4 linked regions of the Homo sapiens genome follow. The protein of the gene in region 4 purifies or fractionates together with the protein of the main gene of each other region. This does not show direct contact. Each region holds a gene or a part of one and is shown on either strand. Other genes may lie near its edges.

Evidence for each region.
Region 1: the proteins of OTC (region 4) and ATPAF1 purify together in Homo sapiens (affinity purification with mass spectrometry; one large-scale study listed by BioGRID and IntAct). This does not show direct contact.
Region 2: the proteins of OTC (region 4) and CPS1 purify together in Homo sapiens (affinity purification with mass spectrometry; one large-scale study listed by BioGRID and IntAct). This does not show direct contact.
Region 3: the proteins of OTC (region 4) and GLS purify together in Homo sapiens (affinity purification with mass spectrometry; one large-scale study listed by BioGRID and IntAct). This does not show direct contact.

Annotation. Positions count from the first base shown.
Region 1 is NC_000001.11:46,660,625-46,667,047, forward strand, and holds part of ATPAF1 (ATP synthase mitochondrial F1 complex assembly factor 1), read right to left. Parts: intron 5,255-6,423; exon of another isoform or gene 5,025-5,254; coding exon of another isoform or gene 5,023-5,024; intron 4,741-5,022; coding exon 4,632-4,740; intron 3,300-4,631; exon of another isoform or gene 3,209-3,299; intron 1-3,208. UniProt on the Homo sapiens protein: Has a complex stabilizing activity in the assembly of the mitochondrial F1-F0 complex.
Region 2 is NC_000002.12:210,669,717-210,676,139, reverse strand, and holds part of CPS1 (carbamoyl-phosphate synthase [ammonia], mitochondrial isoform b precursor), read right to left. Parts: intron 1,239-6,423; coding exon 1,179-1,238; intron 413-1,178; coding exon 300-412; intron 1-299. UniProt on the Homo sapiens protein: Involved in the urea cycle of ureotelic animals where the enzyme plays an important role in removing excess ammonia from the cell.
Region 3 is NC_000002.12:190,959,401-190,964,939, reverse strand, and holds part of GLS (glutaminase kidney isoform, mitochondrial isoform 1 precursor), read right to left. Parts: intron 2,111-5,539; coding exon 1,954-2,110; coding exon of another isoform or gene 1,914-1,953; 3' UTR 1-1,913. UniProt on the Homo sapiens protein: Catalyzes the first reaction in the primary pathway for the renal catabolism of glutamine. Plays a role in maintaining acid-base homeostasis. Regulates the levels of the neurotransmitter glutamate, the main excitatory neurotransmitter in the brain.
Region 4 is NC_000023.11:38,407,106-38,413,528, reverse strand, and holds part of OTC (ornithine transcarbamylase, mitochondrial precursor), read right to left. Parts: intron 4,788-6,423; coding exon 4,734-4,787; intron 4,654-4,733; coding exon 4,504-4,653; intron 1,737-4,503; coding exon of another isoform or gene 1,668-1,736; coding exon 1,530-1,667; intron 1-1,529. UniProt on the Homo sapiens protein: Catalyzes the second step of the urea cycle, the condensation of carbamoyl phosphate with L-ornithine to form L-citrulline. The urea cycle ensures the detoxification of ammonia by converting it to urea for excretion.

The sequences.
Region 1 (6,423 bases), on a different chromosome or scaffold from region 4:
AGAGTGAGCTTTAGATTTGATGAAATAAGGTAATTAAAGCAGTTGAAACTACATGTCAAAAATCAGAAGCATTTAATAAGAACTTTAAATGGGTATTTTACTTCCCTACTATGGATGCTTTGGAAATCTGTGCAGATAATTTTATGGTTATCATAATAGTTTATTGGATATTGATATCTACATTATGGGAGGGGTGTCAAATGGGTGAGTTCTACATAATAAAAAAAATTTCCCTCATCCTGTACAACTTTTCAATGTCTAGCTAGACATTCTTGCAGCTGAAAATACCTATAATATTTCAATATTTATAATTACTTGGGCCTAGAACCTTTTTTTTTTAAACACTGCTTTAATACTAAAATTTCCAGAAATGCAACTACTATATAACTTGAAAGATTCCACATTGTGGAATCATAGGTCACTGATAACAACACTGCTCATGGTTTTGGAGGTTTTTTTTTTTTTGGAGACAGAGTCTCACTCTGTCGCCCACGCTGGAGTGCAGTGGCACAATCTCCGCTCACTGCAACCTCCGCCTCCCGGGTTCAAGCAATTCTCCTGCCTCAGCCTCCTGAGTAGCTGGGATTACAGGCATGCGCCACCATGCCTGGCTAATTTTTCTTTTGCATTTTAGTAGAGACGGGGTTTCACCGTGTTGCCCAGGCTGGTCTCGAACTCCTGACCTCAAGTGATCTGCCACCTTGGCCTCCCAAAGTACTAGGATTACATGTGTGAGCCACTGCACCCGGTGGTTTTAGAGTTTTTATAATTATCAACATAACACCCATTTGCCAGTCAGTATTTGCTGCTTACATGTTCAAGGTTATTTCAGAAATGGGTGGAAGCACCTCATGACTACATTAGGTCTCACAGTGTAGTCGTGCCCTAATATTTACATGCTAAAATATGTATTTTGTTAAAAAATACTTTTCTTTATATTATGGTTAGGGCATTATATTGATTTTCCCACCTGAGGTTATACATACAGGTAGGTTATATTTTTACATACCTATTGTTTTATTTCAGGGTAGAAAAGGGAGAATTTTTAAAAAATGTATTATAAAAGGGGGATGTTGAGTCCCATGTGGTGGGGAACCAATAACTCAAAGTAGTAAAGACAAGACTGTGGGAATGGAAAATATGTGTTAGCCGTTAGCCTTCCTCTATCTAGCTAGATACAGAAGATAGCAAGTGAATATTTACCTAAGAGCTGCCACAATTTAAATTAAATCTTTACATATTCTACATTTTATCATAAAGCTAAATTTCTTTCTTTTTTTTTTTTTTTAAGATGGAGTCTCACTCTGTCGTCCAGGCTGGAGTGCAGTGGTGTGATCTCCGCTCACTGCAGGCTCCGCCTCCTGGCTCCACGCCATTCTCCTGCCTCAGCCTCCCGAGTAGCTGGGACTACAGGCGCCTGCCACAACGCCCGGCTAATTTTTTGTATTTTTAGTAGAGAAGGGGTTTCACCGTGTTAGCCAGGATGGTCTCAATCTCCTGACCTCGTGATCTGCCCGCCTTGGCCTCCCAAAGTGCTGGCATTACAGGCGTGAGCCACCACGCCCGGCCTCATAAAGCCAAATTTCTAAGTCTGTTTACCAAAAAGGGGCAAAGAACATTCCTATCTAATATTTAAAGTTTATAATATAGTAATATTTCCAAGAGCTATTGACTTGTAACCTTACTACTATAAGTGTTTATTATAGGAAATGACAATTGTTAAAATATTTGTAGTAAAGAATTGTTTGCTCACATAAAGTTGTAAACTCTATTTGTCATAGGAGTTGAATTTGCTCCCCAACCTTATTATAATTAACCCATCTGTTATTTTTTTTTTTTTTGCCCAGGCTGGAATGCAGTGCCATGACCTCAGCTCACTGTAACCTCCGCCTCCCAGGTTCAAGCGATTCTCCTGCCTCAGCCTCCCAAGTAGCTGGGATTACAGGCGCCTGCTACCACACCCAGCTAAGTTTTGTATTTTTAGTAGATACAGGGTTTCACCCTGTTGGCCAGGCTGGTCTCAAACTCCTGACCTTAAGTGATCTGCCCACCTCAACCTCCCAAAGTGCTGGGATTATAGGCGTGAGCCACTGCGCCTGGCAACCCATTTACTATTAATCCTGTTCTAATTAACTCAATTAGTCATTTTATTTTATTTTTTTCTATTTTTATTATACTTTAAGTTTTAGGGTACATGTACACAACGTGCAGGTTTGTTACATATCTATACATGTACCATGTTGGTGTGCTGCACCCATTAACTCGTCATTTAACATTAGGTATATCTCCTAATGCTATCCCTCCCCACTCCCCCGACCCCACAACAGGCCCCAGTGTGTGATGTTCCCCTTCCTGTGTCCATGTGTTCTCATTGTTCGATTCCCACCCATGAGTGAGAACATGCAGTGTTTGGTTTTTTGTCCTTGCGATAGTTTGCTGAGAACGATGGTTTCCAGCTTCATCCATGTCCCTACAAAGGACATGAACTCATCATTTTTTATGGCTGCATAGTATTCCATGGTGTATATGTGCCACATTTTCTTGATTCAGTCTATCATTGTTGGACATTTGGGTTGGTTCCAAGTCTTTGCTATTGTGAATAGTGCCGCAATAAACATACATGTGCATGTGTCTTTATAGCAGCATGATTTGTAATCCTTTGGGTATATACCCAGTAATGGGATGGCTGGGTCAAATGGTATTTCTAGTTCTAGATCCCTAAGGAATCGCCACACTGACTTCCACAATGTTTGAACTAGTTTACAGTCCCACCAACAGTGTAAAAGTGTTCCTATTTCTCCACATCCTCTCCAGCACCTGTTGTTTCCTGACTTTTTAATGATTGCCATTCTAACTGGTGTGAGATGGTATCTCATTGTGGTTTTGATTTGCATTTCTCCAATGGCCAGTGATGATGAGCATTTTTTCATGTGTCTTTTGGCTGCATAAATGTCTTCTTTTGAGAAGTGTCTGTTCGTATCCTTTGTCCACTTTTTGATGGGGTTTTTTTTTTCTTGTAAATTTGTTTGAGTTCACTGTAGATTCTGGATATTAGCCCTTTGTCAGATGAGTAGTAGTCATTAAGACTCAGCAGATTCACTTAAAATTCAGGATACCCAAGGCAAAAAAAGTATTTTCCAAGTAAAATAAACACCTCTAATTTGACTTTAAAACACAATGTAGAATCCCAATTTTCTACTGTAACTACCTTAATTCAGGCTTCTGCAGCCCACACCTGGATTACTCCATATTCTCCCTGGCGCTGGCCTCTCCTACACCAGTTTGTTCTGTGCACCATCCTAGGTTAGAATTTTTCAAATAATAGGTTGTGAAATACATTTAGTGGATTGTGATCAGAGTTTTTTAAAAGATGAAAGAGAATAAAAAGTAATAAGAATGGACTGCATGTTGTAAAAGTTAGCATTATTTTATACATTTTTTTTTCAGTTACAATCATATACCTACATGTGTACTGAATTGCAATGTAAAATATATTTCTTATTGTGGTCATGGTCAAAAAGTTTGAAAAACACTGCATTAGAATAATCTTCCCAGACACAGTTTTCAACATGCTTTTCCTCAGCTTTGATTCCTATTTAAGGATAATAATGGCTAATATATATTAAGTACTTATGCCAGAGACGGCGCTAAAGAGTTTTAAATGGTATTATCTCTTCAGCACAACTCTGTGAAGTAGGTACTGTTATTATTCCTGTTTTACAGATAAGCAAACTGAGGCATGGAGAAGTAACAATTTGCTCAGAGTCACCCAGCTAGTAAGTGGAAGGGTTAGGATTCAGTCCTTGGCATCTGGCCCCAGAGCCCATCCTCTTAGCAGCTAAATTATCCTGCCTGTACTCCTTAAGCCCAAAGAGTTTAATGCCTAACTTATTTCTTTAGCCTTAACACTTCCCTCTCCATTTTAACTGGGCATAGTACCTTGCTGTCTCCTGAAACCCCTTTTACTTTCAAAGCTCTTCCTCTGTTTAAGCTAATTCCTCAACATGGGAATGGATGGGGGTGGGTTGGCAGGGTTGGCTGGTTGTCAGGAAACTAAATCTAGTCTGCCAAATATTTTTGTAGATTAAGTTTTACTGGGACAGAACCATACCTATTCATTTACGTACGGTCTAGGCCTGCTTTTGCACTATGATGGCAGAGCTGAGTAGTCACAAAGAAGACCATACGGCCCACAATGCCTAAAATATTTAACATCTAGTTCTTTACAGAAAAAATTTGATGACCCCTGCTCTACATCAAAGTCCCATTCCTTCCTCTCTACTTAATTTAAATCCCCCACAACGTTCCTAGCCTAGGTCAGGTTCCATCTCCCATGGGAAATTTTCTCTGATACCTCTAGCCTACTACCATGTGTGCCTTGCCTTGACCACCAGACTGCTCCTCTTGGGAGCAGGAAGTACCCCTCTCATACTTCTATATCTCCACCATGACCACAGTACTTTGCCTAGAAAGAGCAGGATAAACATTTATGGATGGAAATGGAGTTGGGAGAGACTATGTTCAGTTCACCCAGCTGACCCATCAATAAACCAACTTTAAGGATAAGGGTGAGGGTAAGGAGGGTGAAGGAGTGCTGGTAAGCAAACACCACAAATGGGGGAAGGTCTTACCTTCTGTTCCACACATTTGATAAAATCACCTTGCCTGGAATGCCCCACTGGCTGCTTCCGAAATTCACTGCGTTTCTCCAGGCGGGACTCAAAAGCAGCTGGGTCTGACCTGATCAGAGGTAAACCAAAGGGTAAACCAACTGGGCCTTTTTGAATTCTAAAATAACAAAGCATCACTTTCCACCTCTACAGAGAAAGGACACTGCCATTCAGAGAGGTTGAAAAATTTGCCTTCAGTTAGTAAGAACTGGGCACAGGCCTAGAAATAAAGAAACTGGAAAAAGAAATCCTGTTATTCAACTGTTGTTAATCCTCAAGGGGCCTGTGTAACATTTTTCTTTTGCAGGCTGTTCCCTAGGTTTACACAGGGCTTAGTCTCTCAGGTACTTACATTCAGGGTACTTAGAATTTTGAGGTCATCTTGCTGGATCACCTCTTCAGACAAGAATCCTATAGCCTCCTTACTAGGTGTCAAGCTTTTACTTGAATACATCCAGTTCTTGAAAATATGTCCCCCCAACCAGGTTAAACATCTGCTTTATTCAGATCCTGGTGATTCAGAGGCTTTAGGTAGCCTATTTTGCAGAAGATTTAGCATCTGAGTATCTCCCTAACCTACCCTCCAAAGAAGCTGCTCTTGGAGATGAAACAACAGAACACATTGTTTATGTCAAAATGGGGTTGGTCTTCAGGTTTGAAGTCCAGGCTGGGGTGCTGTCCCTATTAAGAATTCTTCAGACTGTGTAGCTAACCATGGGATATTTGGTTTTGTACACTTTGGTGAAGATATCATCCAGGGATTCCAGCTCTTTGGCCATGAGACCCAGAGTTTCATGGGTGAGGTCTGGAGGACCCAGGGACATCTTGGCTATCCCTCTGGTGGACTTTCCTGGTCAATGCATTATAGGGGGCCCCTTCTTCCATAAAATTCCTTTCTGGAGGTGACATAAAACACCACTCCCTTCACTGTCATGTAGATGGGATGTTTTTCTTCTCTCTGTAGTGGGCCGGCTCCTCCTCAATAAAGAGCCTCACCAGGGGTTTCTGCTTAGTCGGGCATGGCACCTGCCTGGCCAGAGCTGCAAGCAGCCCTGGGGGCTGTACCAGGACCAGGGTCAACCCTGCTAGTGGCTACAGCTGCAACTGGGCCTGCCATAGTGAAGGGGTAGAGAGGGCAAGGGACAGCCTGGGCAGTGAAGCTGTTGCTGGGATCTGAGGATATAGAAATAAATAAGTCAGACTCCCTACCTCAAGGAGCTCACTATCCAGTGGGAGAGACAGGCATAAAAGTAAACAAATGAAAGTACAACAGGTATTATGATGAAAATTTGCTCAAACATCCCCAAATGGTTAAGGTGGTTTCATGCCTCTGTACCTTTGTTTATGTTGCTGCTCCCCTTACCTGGAACATCCCCTCCTCTCCATTCTTTTTCAAAGGAAGTTTGCTAACAGATAAAACTAGAGAGAGACTGGCAGGGACTAGGGTATGAGGAACTTGTGTGAAACATTAAGGAGTTTGGATGTTATTTAGAGGTCAGTGGGGGGATAACAGTATGTGTAAATGTTGATGGGAATGATCCAGTGGGGAAGGACGGTAAAACCAGTTATTTATTTGTTCATGAGTGGGTAAGAATAAATGGATGCTGATAAAGTATTCAAAGTACAAGTAGACAACTCTTCAGAGATGCTTGTGTGTAAAACAGATCAAATACAGATCAACGAGAGAAGCCTGGAGGGGAATGTACATCAAAGAAAGGCTTTTAAGATGACAAATACTTGAGACTATCTCAAT
Region 2 (6,423 bases), on a different chromosome or scaffold from region 4:
AATATAAGTTTGACATGAAATATAAAGTGCTGCATTACATTCTTCATGCTCTCACTTGTTTCCGTCAAGGAAAGTATCCTTACTAAGAAGTATTTTGAAACACGTTTCATATCACCATGTACACATGACGTTATGTATTCCATAGTGATGGAGAGTGAAACTTGACAATCATCCACAAATGTATTCATTTTTAAATTTGTTTTAAAAGACTTGCAATCAAGTAAGGTGAAATATTCATATACTGGTTCTCAAAGTTAATCCTCTAAATTATTTCAGAAAACAGTATGCCTAGTTCTTACTTTCTGATGGAAGAGAGGCTGGGATTCTGTCCTTCTTGAGACGGCCATGCCACTGGGGTGGCAGGGACATTGTTGGCGTTGAGCCAGTCTGATGTGGCTTCCGTGGCAAACAGCTGCATTTAAAATGAAAAAATCAATTACCGTATCACAGTGATTTCTTATTTTTATGGAACATGTAATTTAAAACATAAAGAAGAAGAAATTGCTGAACATGAGAAGTAGTATAGTGCCATGGATAGAGACTTGGACTCACAGTCCAGAGGCATGGGCACTTTAAACATTTTTTATATATTTGCAGTGATTTAAAAAACTTAAGAACCTCAATTTTATTTGCATTTCCATTTTAATAATTATATGTTTAATTTGAATTTAATAATTCAATGACAATTTCTCATAAATTTAATAATTTCTCAATTATTCATGGCTAATTCCTTGTTAGCAGGTCAAAAAATCCCCATGGCCACAGGCCCATCATAAGCCTTGGGAATAATTTTGTTTTACTCAACCAGGCTTTGTGTGGAGGTATTCACTGCAAAGAAGTTTTGCCTGTAACTGTCACAGCTAGAATCTATAACCTCATATGAAAACAAAAAAAGGAAAAACATATGGAAATGTGTTGGGACTTTGTCTCAATTGTGCTTAAGCTAAACTTTCTCAGTTTTTAGCTGGCAACTTCTATTGAATTTGTGGTAATTTTGTTAAAAGTTAATACCAGTCTTTTTAATGATTTGACTCTAAGTTTTGAAACTACCAAGTTAGTTAAACCTTTCATATCAAAAGGACATATTTTGGGCTATTTCTTTTCCAATATTCTGCAATATTTTGATTTGTGGACAGATTCCATGCTGACAGAAAACAACTTAAAACTAATGAACATACCTTGAAACCTTCATTGTGTAATTGTTCAGCCACACCAAGGAATCTTGGCCGGAATGATTGCTGAAAAGGAATTTCACAAAATTCACTTTCTAGATATACATGCTCTTCATTTATGCAATATGGTATTTCCTTACAACATCTTAAAAGACAATGTTACATGTTGCCGGATGCTTTATATTAAAAAATGACAAGTTTTATCCTTTTATCCTTCTATGGTGAGTGTGAGTTTTAGCTATATCCCAATGTCAATGAAATTCCATCCACATAATCTTGATCCCTGCTTTTCACCTTGTTCTTATCTCCTTTTATTCTCTATTTAATCTACTTGGTCTTTGTAAGTTCAGATCCACTTCGGTTCTACAAGGATCCTTTTCCTGGTCAGGGAGGACTTAAAAGATATGCGGGTTAGGAGCCAGTACCGAGTCAGGCTAGCTGTTTTGCCTATTCAACCTGCTCTTATTTCTTTTTTTTTTTTTTGGTTTTTTTTTTTGAGATGGGGTTTTTTGCTCTTGTTGCCCAGGCTGGAGTGCAATGGCACGATCTTGGCTCACTGCAATGCCTTCTGGGTTCAAGCGATTCTCCTGCCTCAGCCTCCCGAGTAGCTGGGATTACAGGCATCCACCACCATGCCCAGCTAATTTTGTATTTTTAGTAGAGACAGGGTTTCTCCATGTTGGTCAGGCTGGTCTCAAACTCCCGACCTCAGGTGATCCACCCACCTCGGCCTCCCAAAGTGCTGGGATTACAGGCATGAGCCACTGCACCCAGGCTCAACTTGCTCTTATTTCTAAGTTCTAATTTTGTACTGCTCTTCAATAACTAGGCCATTTTCCTAGTAGCTTATGCACTAGTCCCTGCAATAACTCAATCTTTGGAACTCTTTTTTCATTTACTCTGAGGCAATAAAAAGTTGTAGCTAAAGAATGAGCTCTAAAGTCAGTTAGCTGCATTTCAAATCCTGGCTTTCACCATTCACTAGTGGTATGAGCTTCAAAAAGTTAATGTCTTTGCCTTCATTTCTTCACTCAAAAACAGTGATGACAATAGTAGTATTTCAACTTTTTTTTTTGAGGCTCCACACCTTATTAAACTGTGTTACCTTGAATATCTTACTTAACAACTCTAAGATGCAGTTTCCTCATCTGTTGAACAGGAATAGTAACAGTTCTTACATTAGTATGAGTGTTCAATAAACTAATTTAGAAGTAAGCACTACTTAAGTGTTACTACTATAATTTAGCACAGTTACTTGCCTATTAATAGTTCTTAATAAATATTATTATAATTACAATAATTGTTTTTTCAGCCCCCCTAAAAACTAGATTCCTGCCCTTACATCCTAGTTTCCAAGCATGGGTTCCTCTACCCACGATTACACTTACAACCCAAACTGACTGCCCCCTCATTTATACGCATTTCATTTCCACACAGGCTTCCCTAATGCTCCATCTCACTGTTCAGATATTTTCCTGTAGTCCATTGCTGTGTCTTTCCTAGGACCCCAGGTGGACCTGTCTAGTGTCCAGCCCCTACCTTCCCTGGATTCCTGACCATTGCCATCAGGAGTTCCCTATTTCTGAACATACTTCCTGTGATCAAGAGCTAGTGTTTGCAAGATAGTGGTCAGAATGAAAGAAAACAACACTAGGTGACCTACCCAAAGATCAAACCCTGACCTTGACTTCATTAACATGAGTGTCTGAGTAACTGAGCTGGCGTATTTAAAATCACACACTGTTAAAAACATATCCATTCTTCTTTAAATAGGAACATTCTTGTTGGTTTCCCTTGTAAAAAGGTTTTAAACAGATGACATGAGCTAGTTACTTCAGCAAATGTCTTGTAACCTGTTTATAAACCATATTAGTGATGGCTGGAAAAAATCAAATGATCTTATTTCAGAGTCAGAAACTAGGAACTGTGACAATAAAACACATGTGATCCTTGCACAATTTTGATAATGTTTAGCCCATAACACCCCCTAATATTTACTTGCAGAGTATTTCTGAGCACAGATCTAAATCCTAAGAAAAGACCCCAAAGACTATGTTCAAATATAAAATTCTTTCAGATTCTGGCCCCCTCAATCCCAGAACTGCAGTTTTATAAGAGGAAACTATTGGTAAATAGAATAGATAAATGTAACTGGATGAATTTCAGCTGAGGCAGGCTCAGTGGTTATTCATGACTGCCTTATAGAACATGAATTTTAACCATGCCCAGGAAAGTAGCTTTTCATTTCCACTTAGGACCAAACAGAAAGAAATGAGCTTAGATGCAAGAAGCTCATGGTTAGACGTAAAAGAAAAAAACAAGTAAAAAATTAGAGAATAACTCTTAGTGACATCAGGACAATTGGTTAGACAGAAGAATAAGACAATTCAAGTTTCATTCTCCTCAGAAAAGGCAAAGGGCTAAATTTGATGGCATATAAATTTTTTTTCATGTTTTAAGATTCCTTGGTATATAACAAATATATATGAAATGTCCAAAATGAACTTCCAAATGTTGTTAAATACCCCTAATATGGAACATTACATTGTGACCCTCTGCTAAACACAGAATAGACTTCAGTAAGTACCAAATCACATTAGAAGGCTCAGCATAATGATCTCCAACACTTGCTAATTGATACATTAATCATGCACTCAACTTTCCTCAATCTTTTATACTTTCCCCTAGCAAAAATTCCCTGATAATATGTTTGACAATAATAAGTGCTAACATAACTTTTAACCAGGTTTCTAAAGTACCATCGCTCAAGTAGAGTGGTTCTCAAACTGTGGTCCCTGGCAGAGCAGCATCAGCATTACCTGGGAATTTATTAAAAATATGAAAATTTGAACCCCACCCCAGATCTATTGAATCAGGAACTCTGGGAGTGGATCCTAGCAATTTGTTGTTTTACAAACCCTCCAGGTGATTTTGATGCATACTTAAGCTTGAGAAAGGGGGGAATAGGGGATAGGAAGACTATCGTTCACTCATTGTGTAATATGAAGTCAAGATTGCATTAACCTTGGCTAAAATCACCACGAAAAACATTAAGGGAGGAGTACTAGAATGTAATTTTTTTCTTTGCCATTTTAAAGTAAAATAAGTCAGCAAGTCCTCTAAGACCTGCAGACACCAGGCAGAACCTCATTATGGAGCTGTTTCAGTGTTGTCCCCCAGGTGGAAAAGATAAATATCCAACATGACAGTATCGACAGTTCCCAGCCAGGAAACCACTCTACCTTCTGGTCTGGGTGTTGGCTTCCATAGGCACATTATAAACTTCTATCAAACATGTATTGAACACTTGTGACACATAAAACAGCCTCTCTACAAAAAGAAATTACAGCTGTCAGCTTGCATCTGAGTAGCCTCAGATTTAAAAGCTGATTGAAAATACCTGTGTAAGAAACCATTTGTTACGAAAGGTGAAAAGTACAAGCTGATTTATTTTCTTGGAAATGTTTATAAAGAAGACAGTCCTTTAAAAGTGAAAAATATATATATTTCCTCCAATGATCATTTTCACATTTATCCAACTCCTGGCTACAGAAAAGAAAGCCAAGTTAATACTATGTGATGCCTGTGGATTCTACGGGGACCTCTGGATTGACAACTCTATGGTTGTTCCTAATGATTCCATATTAAAGATAAAAGGTTATTCATGTCACTTGGAGTTGTCTTTTCAAATAAAATGCTTGCTTTGTGTTTCTGAGCGATGCTGAAGCGCAGATGTCAGATTGGTACTTGCCACTCCACAAGCATCACTGAATAGCCCAATCAGAGAGGAAAACACAGTGAGTGCTCTTGATCTACTCTAGAGTAAATCATTTAATGTTAAAGGGTCTTCCAGAAAACTTCAAAACAAGGCAGATTGCCTACTCACAGCAACTAAAAATAAATCCTAATGCGATGAAAGGTGGCTAGAAATATTACAGGAAAATCAAAGATGATTTTTGTTGCCATATAAACCTGTGTTATGCCTTTCTTATGTTAGAAATGCCTTGGTAGAGACACAGGGAATGTAATAGATTGAGAAGAATCCTTTGACAAAATCTACATCTTGATTCTTTTATCCTAAGTCCTAGTTATAAGATTGATGTTATGAATATTTCAAACTTCCCAGATACTTTGACCTATTGGATTTAACTTTGGAAGACCAGAAACAGAGAGTCTGTATGTGTAAAGGAGTAGGGTGGGAAAGAGAGAAGAAATTTAAAAGTTAGAAAGACTGCCATATAACAAGTTCTCTTGGAACTTCATAATAACTCACCTTCAACTAGATGCCTTCCATTGGATTTACTATCCCTAACCCCCATTTATATATTAGCAGTCTTTTTTGTGCTATTTTTCAGTTCTAACTTAATATATCCAAAAGTGTTTATATGAGTTCTTCTGACCAAGTAGGATCACGTTAAATAAAATGTTTTTTAAAAGTACAATGTATCCTAAAATATGGAACCCTAATTACTTTATCTGCAATTGCTATGAAGCTGTGGTAAAAAGTTGAGATTAGATTTGGCCCCATACTAACTAAGAAGTAGTCAAGTAAGTTTTATAGCTATTAACTCTCCATTTAGTATATTCTGTCACGCTTTTTCAGTTTATCAGACTAAGCATTTTTAAAAACACCATGAATGAAAATCCTACATATAGTAATGAAGAAACTATGCATTAGCTGATCAATTTTGCCATGGCTGTAAATATTTTCTTAAGTATAATTTTATTAAGTTCCTTTAAGTACTTTTTAATATATTTTTAAATCTGTGTCCGTATGCTCTCATGTGCAGAAAGTTCTTCGCAACAACTCATGTAGCTGCTAGAACATTTATTTCTTTTAAAAGGAAAGTATTGAAAGGTAGATTTTCAATAGCCAGCTCTCACTACTTTAAGAAAACATTATTTTTTCTAACAAACCCTTTTTTCCCCTACAAAGCAAAATTCTGTCCACTAATGCCAAAATTACGCAAATACTTCATAGGGATCAAATTAATTTTTGCTTCACATTTCCCTGCAGCACTAGAACCAAACAAGGCACAATTTTATACATCACTGCCTTCTTAAAGTGGCATTTTAAAATGTTAGCACTATTATGATTAGATGTGAAGATGTGGACTAAGGGCATGGTCTCCTCTGAATGCCCCCAAGTCTCACATTAAACTTTAAGCCATAACTGGAAGTTGGGCAAATATTCTCCTACTTGGGACTTAATAATACTTAATACCCATTTATAACATGATGAGTCTATCAT
Region 3 (5,539 bases), on a different chromosome or scaffold from region 4:
TCTTTGTTCCCAAATAATGGTTAGAACCTCTTTTTATTATAGAAAAGCCTCAAAATCATTGGTAATCTTCAAGTCACACAATTCAACTGTCTTGTTTCATTTTAGTCACACAAAGCGGGCTGCTCTTTGAATAAAGTTATCTTGATTGATTTCAGTTAAAACGTGTCTACCCTGTAATATCTTTGGGGATAATGCTGCTCCTGTGCAGCATCTTACAAATGCTACCTGTCTCCATGGCTTGCTAGATCCACGGGGTAGGAAACTGCTCACTCAGCATCCTCCCCATGGAAGCTCAAGCATGGGAACAGCTTCGGGCCTGGTGCAGCTAAGGAACATTGGCCGTGGTTTCACCAAAGGAGGTGCCATCTAGGTAATGGGAGGGCAGTGGCAGGAGCCACTGGCTTAGACTGGAAGTGAAAATGAAAGCACCTGGAGGCTGCTGGAGTAAGGTGCCATCAGGCATGTAAAGTTTAGAAGCAGCAGAGTGTGCTCATAGAAAAAGAAAAAAAAAGGAATTTGCTGTATGTGATAACAACTAACATTCATGTACTTGAGCTCATTTCACTAAACACAGCTTCAGAGAAGTCCATTTGTGTGCATGTGTGTGTGTGCTTAATATCAGAACTCCTCACTAACATGCCACTTTATCTCGAGGTATGACAGGATAAAATGTATGTGTAACTCCTAGAAAATCCTGTTCTATCCGTTTTTTGAAGCCCCTTTTACCCACTTTCCAAATGAATCCTGAATTACCAACCCAAGACAAAGAATTATAGGTCACAATTTAAAATGAAATGGCCTTTTTCTTATTATTAAACTACAGAGCCCACCAAGAATTACACAATAGAAAAATCACAAGAAATCTGGAATGATCCAGTGGTCCCCCAAGGAGGACAAATCTCTTGATGCAGACTCTTAATGACAGGCTTGGAAACAAATGTTTGTTAGTTGTAGCAGTTCCCATACTTTCAGAATAACTTTGGTAGCTTAGAGCATTTCTGAATTTATCTTTACCCTAGAAGCTAAAAAAAAAAAACTTCTTAAAGAGCTGCAGTTGCACATCCCTTCGTTTTTTAGACTGATAAACTTGACTAATTTATACTTAGTAATTTTGTCTCTGGTTCGTCTTCTGTAGACAAATGGCAAAGTTCTGATGCCAGAAATAGGAGGCATTTTCTGACTTACTATGGAAAACATAAAAACTGCATAGTATGCCAGCTCTCACTTTCCCAGCTAAAGGAAAGAGGCAGATAGCTAAATGTCTGAGAAGAGAGGCTGGACTAAGGGGATATAGAAAAAGGAAAATTTTTCAAAAGCATTATAACTACATTCACACATACGTTTTGGTCACCAAACATATCTTAAACAGATTCCCTGATAAAGTCTAATCAGAATTGGTCTATCTTACTAACAGTTGTTAACTATTATAGTTTTTTAAGAGTCACATCATGAAGCTAGGGGGTGAGAGAGACATTTTAAACACACAACCGTAAGTGCATATAGTTGTTCAAACACTTAAACTAAATTTGTATTTGAAGTCTTGAAAATCACACTATTTGCTTCTAAAGGCAACCTTGACCCATTTGGACAGACTGTACAACAGAGCTTACTTTATAAATGCATATCAGCAGATCATCACCATAAATTGAAAATTCACAAAACACAAATAAATCATGGAAGACCACACAAGCTAGCATTGGTAACTATTTCTTTTACATCAAATTATACAATGCACGAGGTAATATTGCTCACATTATGGAGGGAGATTGTTTTATTTCTATTTTTTCCCAAAGAGATCAGATTTGTCCTGTGTGCACAATGAAGAAAACTCCAGTAACACTGAAATGACAAATGTAAAATATACATCACTACCAGATAGAAATACACATGTTCTTCATAATCATTTTCCACAATTAAATAGGTAAGTGATTTAAATCTTGGGATTTGAGACCATTACAACAATCCATCAAGATTCTTATGGACGGTTTGATTTTCCTTCCCGTTGTCAGAATCTCCTTGAGGTGTGTACTGGACTTGGTATTCTTGGAGAATTTTAAATACATCATGGTGTCCAAAGTGCAGTGCTTCATCCATGGGAGTGTTATTCCACCTAAACACGTAGCACAGCATGGACAGGGTCATTAGGTAATTTATGTACAAAGATGATCACCCCACATTCCTAGATTTTAAATGCAGGTTAAATGGCCAAATTTAGCTATTTTAGCAATTTTACAAATAAAAATTAATAATAGAAATGCAGAAAGGGATTTATAATTCAAAAAGTAGTCTCCAAGACAAGTTGGGATATGGAGAGGAAGAGAAAAAGATCTGTGAAAGGATCTTGTTTACACATCCAAGTGCTTATGGAGGGAGCTTTTTAAGGAAAGTCCTTGTGGTGACAGATATAATAGACTGCTCTAGGGTTCCAGAATTTTAGTTTCATGAAAAGCCCAAAGTATCTCTTTTAAAATAAAATGTTCAAAGAAAATTCAGGCATATAACATCCATCACTCTAGCCTTTGACAGAAAATTAGTGTTTGTGTCAATTCAAAGCCACAGTAAGTCTCAGAAGTCTAGAAATAACCATGACCTCATTAGGGCTAAAACACACTGGAGGAGCAAGATTGGCCCCAAAGGAATTGACATTTTTATCACCTCTGGTAAGGCTGGGAAGCCATGGACTCAATCGGACCACTACACCAGAAGAGTAACTCCCCTTTCCATACTAATAACTCCCCTTTCCATGCTTCTGGGGCTGTGCTGTTTAGAGTGATGTAGATGAATATTCAAGGATAAGAAGAAATGAAGAGTTGCCAGAAGTGGTTAATCACTTGCCAGAAGTGGTAAGTCTTTTGCAAGAGGAGACAGAACTACATAACTCACAGCCCTAGTCAATGACAGGGTACGATGGGTAGTTCCCTTACACTTTACAAACTGTGAAGCCTGTCTTCCTACCCAATCTCTCTCTCTACTTACATTACAAAATTCTCCATGGCTGATGATCTCTCTTTCTTCATCCATGTGCCACTGGCACCACCTTCCTAGTTTCACTTCTTCCTGTTTCCTTCTTTCCTTTCCATCTCTGTCCTGAACTTTTTACCCGCTTAGTGGAGTCACAATATGGAAACGAAAGGTTTTTAAAACAGTCTCATTTTTTAATATATTTGGATAAATTTTGGTAGCCTGTTTTTAAAATCAGGTAAGTAAAACTTTACATGTATCTTTGTATTTATCAAAAAAAAAAAAAAAACAGCTGAATTAAGTGACTTTGAATAGGCCTTCATTAGTTTAGGAAGTCAGTGGCTTGAAACAGACTTTTGAGTCATCCTCTACAGTATGTAATTATCTGTCTTTCTGGAAAAATGGAATGTCAACTGCGTGTTACCTTTTTTACAATTCTTCTGTGAATTAATGAAAAATATGAACTTTAAAGAATACACTAATTTCAGCCAGATACAGTGATGCCTGTAATCCTATCACTTTGGGAGGCCAAGGTGGGTGCACCACTTGAGGCCAGGAGTTCAAGACCAGAATGACCAACATGGCGAAACCCCTCTCTACTAAAAATACAAAAATTAGCTGGGCGTGGTGGAACACACCTGTAATCCCAGCTACTCAGGTGGCTGAGGCAGGAGAATTGCCTGAACCTGGGAGGCAGAGGTTGCAGTGAACGAGATCACGCCACTGCACTCCAGCCTGGGCAACAGAGCAAGACTCTATCTCAAGAATTCACGAATTCTGTGCAAACCTATTATAATTTAAGGTGACACTGATTCTATGAAATAGAGAAAAAGACTTGTTGAATGCCTAGTTATCAAGTTAGTTACTTAGCTCACTTTTTCTTATCAGGTGGGTACATCTACTTTCACATTCCTAGAGGCCAATTTAGGGCAAAAAAAATTAATACATATACAAAGCACAGTAATATTTCCAACATGTATTACATAGTGTTTTAGTTGGGATTATAAACACAGGAGGAAAATGCTCTTCAATTTTTTGCTTTAGAAACCTGGGGTGGGTATTAAAATTTGGGGAAAGGGAAGAAGACTGTCAACCTAACATGAGGTTTTAGAATACTGCCAATAAAGGAGTTTTTAATCATAGTGCTTTTTTACAACTATAGGAATAAAGTTAGATAACCAAAGTGTTAGCAAACTTACAAAATTGCTAACATTTGTCAGACACTGACATAACTTTTCTGCATTTCTTGCAAGCTAACAGCTGAACCAACAAAACCCAAGCCCTAATTTTAAAAAAGATAGTTGGCCAGGCTCAATGGCTCACACCTGTAATCCCAACACTTTGGGAGGCTGAGATGGGAGGACCGCTTGAGCCCAGGAGTTGGAGACCAGCTTGGGCAACATAGTAAGATTCTGCCTCTACAAAAAATAAAAAATAAATAAATAAATTAGCCAGGCATGGTGGTGTTTGCCTGTGATTGCAGCTACTCAGGAGGTTGAGGTGGGAGGATCGCTTGAGCCTGGGAAGTTAAGGCTGCAGTGAACTATGATCATGCCACTTGCACTTCAGCCTGAGTGGCAAGGCAAGACCCAGTCTCAAAAAAAAAAAAAAAAAAAAAATTGAAGCTTAATAAACAGAAACACAATACAGCTAAAGAGTAATCAACTTGCTCCAAACTTAATACAGCTCCCAGTTCTCAAATGAATCCAAACTCCTAATACATATCAAACCACCATCAAGTATGCGTTTTTTTCCCATTCTAAACTTTTATTCTCATTACTCATTGACTCATATACTCTACTCCAGTACATAATGTCCAAGGATATGAATCTAGAGTTTACTGTACATGTATATGTGTAAGCTGCATTCTTATCCCTTCCCTGACCACTTTGTTGACATCATTTGTTGCAGGATGAATAGCAGTTTGCTATGTCGACCAGGAGAGAGAGGAGAGGAGCAGAATATATTCTAGGCATATTTTTCCCACTATAGATAGAATGCCCTTCTTTTCATTCTGTGCCTTCAGTCTCGTCTCTTCCCTAAAGCACTGATTAAAATTTAACTTCATGAAGCCTTCTGAAACTGATTCCAACCAAATGCAGAAATTTCAACAAACTCCAATATATTCATTTTAGAGTTAACAGTTTTCTTATACATTTTAGCTTGTTTAGAAGCCTTCCCATTTTGTATGTCTCAATATTGTGAGCAAGTTTGTATGCTGATAAAATTCACATTATTATTAAAAACAACATCAGGCTGCATAAATGTCGAATCCCTGCCAGCAATCACTGTCCTCACCAATCACTGGCTTCTTTGCAAATCCTAAGAGAGAACATTCAGTGTTAATTATCATCTTAAAGTTTATGCTTCTCTAAAGGTTTGTCTTGTCTACCCTGGGTTGTTAAAAACTCCACGAGGGGTAACCAGCAACTGCAAAAACATACAAAATTGTAAAGACCATTGACACTATGAAGAAACTGCATCAACTGAAGGACAAAATAACCAGCTAGCATCATAATGACAGGATCAAATTCACACATAACAATATTAACCTTAAATGTAAATGGGCTAAAAGCCC
Region 4 (6,423 bases):
GCCAAAGTTAGTGTCCTGAGGTGGCAAGCTGGAAAGATGCAGTGAAAAAAAATCATCCCTGTTATTAGATATGACAAATTTAGGCCTAATATACAAACTTCTATTGAAAAGGGAGTCACGGTTGGCTGCCAAGCAGCCATAGTTGAGCTTGAACCCCTGCTTATTTTATAGGGTCTGTATCAGATCAATAGTGAAGATGATGATAATGAGGGTAATAATTATGATAACAATATTTACCATGTGTTATGTGTTATGTACTATACTAAAAGCTTTACACATATTACTTTAATGTTCACAATAAACCTATTCCAATTTATAGATTAGATAAATAATTAGAAGCTAGTCCTTTCCAGCTTGCTTTTCTCTACTCCAGAGGCTGAAAGCTAAAAACTGCCTTTCCCAAACTCCCTTGCAGCTAGGGTACAGGCATCCCACTCAGCTGCATCTACTCCAGACTTGGGTGCAGAAGCAAACAACATGCAGTGGAAGCCGTCTTCGGAGAGATTGGATCTTCTGCTACATATGCAGGTAGAGAAATCTATTTCAGCTGTGGTGGCTATAATGGAGTATCTGACATCTGGTTTCAAGAGCCTCAGGTACCAGGCTGTGTCAGTGGTGTTCTGGCTACAAAAGAACCACAGTGTCATTGGGCAATTTTTCTGCCTGTGTTGTCCCTGGCTATATGGTGTCCAAGAATTATTCACTGCACTTCCTTTCCCAAAAGATTCTGGGAGCCGCTTAATGTCTCTTAATACATTACTTTCCATTTATCTACCTAGAGTGGACTCCCGTTTGCAAGTAAGATCCTGGCTGATACAGTAATTGAGACCAGTTAAGTCACTAAAAGCTAAAAAAATGGTGGAGCTAAGTTAGACATGTCAGTACTATTTTCCAGAGCAGGTGACATTTGGGATATTGTAAAGTAGACATATGGTTAATATTTCCTAGAATGACAGTGATGAAGATGAAACTAGTGGCTTTATCTGAAAGGAACCATTAATTTTTAAGATAAGTTTTGCCATGAAATTTGGAAATGTTCTATACCTAAAAACACATATATCCCTATGGCCAAACTCAAAGAACGAAAACAAGTATCTAGTCCAGTCATAAAGTAAGGCATGGAATGAGGAAAAAGAGAAGGGAAAAAGTAAGATGTTTTGAATGCCCATTTTATACAGGAACTGAATTAGGGGCTTCTCTAAACATGAACAAAGAGATTCTAAAATAAGAATTATATGACTTATAATGGTTGGCAAACTGGTGGCTGGTGCTCAGGCGGATCAAGGGTGGTAAGAATTTTGGTTAAAATGGATTTATTTGAAAGGAGATTAATCTCACTCCATGCAAATACACTATAAATGCTAATAAGCACTAATGATGTATTATAAAGTTTCTGGAAAAAAATAGATGTTACATGAGCAAGTAATGTAGTTGGATAATCTCACTTGCTTATTATTTCCCCAAAGGCATGAATGACCAAGTTGGAACCACACAAAGAACTTATCCTCCATTCCTTGTTTCTTGCTTACCATGATTGTCCACTTTCTGTTTTCTGCCTCTGGGAACACTAGTGATCGAGGAGAATAAAAGACTTCATCATCCACTTCTTCTGGCTTTCTGGGCAAGCAGTGTAAAAATGTCCAGTCAGAGGCAGCAACTTTAGCAGTCTAAAGAGATGGGGATAAGACCACTTTTTGACTATTATATGTGGCAGTCATATTTGTTTTCTTCAGTATCTAAAAACACACATGGCCAGTAGTCAGACATCAATGCAAAGGGAGAGACAAAGGAGCAGAGTGATGGTTTTATCTCAAGACACCTAGGAGAAATGTACATGGTACTTTCAAATTTTTTTTTTTTTTTGAGACAGAGTCTCGCTCTGTCACCCAGGCTGGAGTGCAGTGGCAAAATCTCGGCTGACTGCAACCTCCGCCTCCAGAGCTCAAGCAATTCTCCTGCCTCAGCTTCCTGAGTAGCTGGGACTACAGGCATGTGCCACCATGCCCAGTGAATTTTTGTATTTTTAGTAGAGACGGGATTTCACCATATTGGCCAGGCTGGTTTTAAACTCCTGACCTCAAATGATCCGCCCGCCTCGCCTCTCAAAGTGCTGGGATTACAGGCATGAGCCACCGTGTCTGGCAAGTCTTTTTTTTTTTTTTTTCTTTTTAAATTTAAGAGAGTACCACTTCAAGTTACACCAGTAACTCAGTTTTCTGTTATTCTATTTAGTGGAACAGTAGACCTTTCAGTAAAGAACTCTACTAATGTAATATGTGGCTGATAGCAAAAGTCACCAATTATAGTCCACTATATTTAAAAAGTTGCTTTGGTGTGATAATATTATATTTGGAGCTGATCTCCAAATTATTATTTTTAGCACTTGAAGCATACTCCATCACTAGTTAAAACAATTTAGATAAAGGTAATGAGGTAGGGGTGAATTAAACAGGATTATAAGCACTATGCATTAGATTTTTCATTCTTAATGCAAATGTACTAGCAGTTTTAATTTTCTCCAACAGTTAATTGCTGAAAGTTACATTTCCCTATATATTTCTATTGTTCACATACAGATTCAAAACTACATTCCTTCATACTTTCTTACCTCAAAATTACTGCCTTTGTACTACAATTTTGTTTTACCTCCCACCCAAGCTCTAGGTTCAGGACATTTTGAGTTTCTAAAATACCAGCAAAATTACATGGAAAAAAGTAACATTTATAAATGCCATACATCAACAAAATGACTGTTCTTCAATCCTACAGTTCCAGCACCAGCAACACATATAAGATTGGCCAAGCAAGTGTAAGTATGAAGCAATTTATATAATTTAAAATATCTCCATGAAAATATATTCCACATGATAAGGGATTAGCCATAATATATAAAGAGCTCCTATAACCAATAATAGAAAAGGCAAAAAAATAGAAAATGGGCAAAAAATGTAATAGCAATTTATAGAAAAAAGGGCAATGCCCAATAAACATAAAAAGATGCTTAACTTCATTAGTAATCAAGGAATTGCAAATTTTAACAAAGATGAGGTGCCATTTTTCCTCCAGATTTAGAAAAATTAAAAATGTAAATAAAAGCTAAACATGGAGAGGATATGGAAAAATAACTATAATATACAGCTGCAGCAGTATACATTTTTAATCTTCTTTGGGTAAGCAATTTAGCAGCACTCTCATATTTTAAAAAATTTATACCACTTCACCCCAAAATTCCTCTCCTCAGGATCTTATTCTCCAGTAATATTTGCACAAAGAAATATGGATAAGCAAGTTCATTGCAGCATTTTTGTAATCGGCATTCTCAGAAATAGCCTAATTTATCAATAGGAAACATTTTAAGTAAATTATGGTTCCACTTATCCTTTGGAATTCTATGCAGCAACTAAAAAGAATAAAAAATATCTAAATGAGTGAGCAAGAAAATCTAAGATTTGTTAAGTGGAAAAAGTAAGAATAATAATAAATAAATAAGTAATGTCTAAAATATCATTTACAAAAAAATCAATAGTTATGTGTGTATTGAGGCATACATATGTAAATGCACAGAAAAGGTCTGCAAAGAGACACATCAAATTATTAAACAGAGGCTACCTCTAGGAATAGTCTCTGTTAAAGAGATGGGAGAAAGACATTTTTACTTTTTATTTTTCAAACTTCTGTTCTATTTTATATATAACAATAAAGAACTTGTATTTATGTATTACTTTATCAATATAATATTAATTGTACTTGCTTAATCCCTTTCTCCACCAAAGTAGATTTGTTGCTTTGCTGACAAAACCCCTGTGCATTTGGCTTTCAGGGTATTCCTCCAGAACATTGCTTCTCAAAGTGTGGCCCTGGAGGCAGCAGCACTGCATCACCTGGGAACTTGGTAGAAATGCAGATTCTCAGGTTTCACCCTGACCTACTGAATCAGAAACCCTGGGGGTGGGACCCAGCCAGCTGTGTATTAACAACTCCTCTGGTGATGCTAATACCTGCTCAAGACTGAGAAGCATTGTTCCAGATCTTACTGGAAGACAGCCAAACAGATGAGTCCCCTGGGAATGCCCTGGAGGGCATTAGCAAAACTAAACTGGATTTAGAGGTCCTTGGAAAATAGAGGCAAGGACTAGCCTGAGGAGCATAGTTAAGGGGCTTTTCTTAGGGGAGAAATCATAAGAAACTGCATGCATCAGAAGTAACCTAATTTCTCTAAACACACAAAGAGTAAAACACTGCAATGCCTCGATTCTTGTGAGAGGGAAAAGCCTGCTCCTCTCTTCTCAGTGGGTTTCAAATTCCTTCATCCAGCACAAAAATGCCTTTCCAAAGGACACAGCTAATCTTTGGAAGGAGAGAAGTCCCTAGGGGATACAGTCAGTGAGTCCTTTTATAGGGAATGAAAGGACAGTCTGCTCCCCCTAAAGTGAATAAGTGATTAGATGGTTCTGGCCTTCATGAATGGAATTAATGAACCTTCAGAGAGGCATCAATTTGTACCTTCATTGTAACCTGGTAACCTTGGAAAGCCTGGAGCCGCTTTTTCTTCTCCTCTTCTTGTCCCATGCTTATCCAAGTGTCTGTAATTAATACATTGCCTCCATGCGCTGCTTCCAATGGATCATTTGTCAGCAACAGCTTGGTACCATTCTAGCATACATAAACACGCTGGTTAAATAACTTCATGGGACAGTAAAAGGCAATAATAGCTTTACATGTAAAGAGCATACCTCTTTGGCATACTGCTCTGCCAACTTGGTTACACTAGCATCCGGCTCATAACCCTAAAGGAGGAAGAATTTAAATCTTATTTAGGTAATTTTATTATACATGTTTTCTTAAATATATATTATTTTCTTTTCAATATCGCGTCTCCTTCCCTTTTTCAAGATGTGGTCCCACCATGTTCAGTAGAATATGATTTTTACATCTAGAATTCCAAAACTCAATAGTGCCTTTTGGAATTTAAAGAGACAACCAATTGCCCCAGCTTTCACTATCTCCGACTTCTTTAATCATAAAGGCAAACATAAGGCATGGTGCTTTCTAACTCTTGGAAGCACCTCTTCCGGTTTCCATAATGGCTTAAGAGGATTATATTCAGAAGTGTGCAAATGAATGCATGTTTGTCTATCTTTGCACATGCTATCCTTTCTTGTCTGAAATTCTTTCTTCCACCCATTCCATGTGGATAACTTTTTCAGGTCTCAGTTGAAATGTCCCCTCCTCAGAAAAACCTTCCCTGACCATCCCAGCTAAATACTAACAGCTCCCCCTCCCCCATTACACACCTCTCATTCTTTTGCATTCCCCAGCAAGCCTTTTGAGGGCAGGGTGCTTGTTTTGAAAGGCATTGACAGAACAAATACATTGTTTTTGCTAAGATTATATATTTGTCCGGGATGGTTTGGTGAGGGCAGAGTCAGACTCTGGAGAGGCAAGCGAGGTGCCTAGGGCAAAACATTTAAGGAGGCGCTAGAAAAAATGTAAAGAAACACACATTCTCAGGGTCATGCATGCACAAATTCTGCACCCTAGGTGCCTCGCTTGCTCAGCCTAGTTCCTACTCTGGGTGAGGAGACATCATGGGAACAGCTAAAGCTCCCCAAGGTATCCCAGATTCCCACAGGCAGCCTCCCTGCCTCTACCCTCACTCTCCAACCTATTCTGTACACAGCAGCAAGAACTGTTTTCTCTGAAGCCTCTGATGTTTACTACTTGTTTCTTAAGTCAAAGCTGATTAAGAGCATCAAGGCTCCCCACCTCCATCCTCTGCTTCTGTCTCTTTTAATTCTTCTCAACATCTTGCTGCAGGAAAGCCAATCTTATTGTCATCCCTGTACACATCTTGCCCTTTTCTGCCATCACAGCCTTTCACCCTTGAACACCTCCTCTCTTGTCCCCTCCTGGGCTTCTTCATCACAATGTGTCAGCTCCTCAAAACTCTAGCCCAGCCTCACCTCCAAGACCCTCCATATGGAAGTCTTGTCAGTTCAAACACTGTAATTATCCTCACCTTCCTCTATCCTTCTCATTTTCCCAAGTTCTTAGCATTGATTATGAGTTGATTTTTATCACTTTTCACTGAAGCATTGTGGTGAACGCTGTGGTATGCTCCCGAGATCCCCCTCCAGGAATAATCATGAATAAAGGACTTATTCCCCCAGCTGCTGGGAGTGCTGCCAGAAGACGGCTTTCAGCTGTCAGCCCCCTTTGGGCACTGCCTCTGCTGCAGAGAGCAGCCGCACCCAAGGTCACACACCCTTTTGGGGCAACCCACATTCAATGGCTGATTGACAGGAGGGTATGAAAACCTGACCCTCCTCTGCCCAACTCCAGACAGATGAATGGACATCTCAGATCCAGAACTTTCCATAAGATCAGCCAAGGCTGTTGTTGGGTCTGCATCGCAACTCAGCT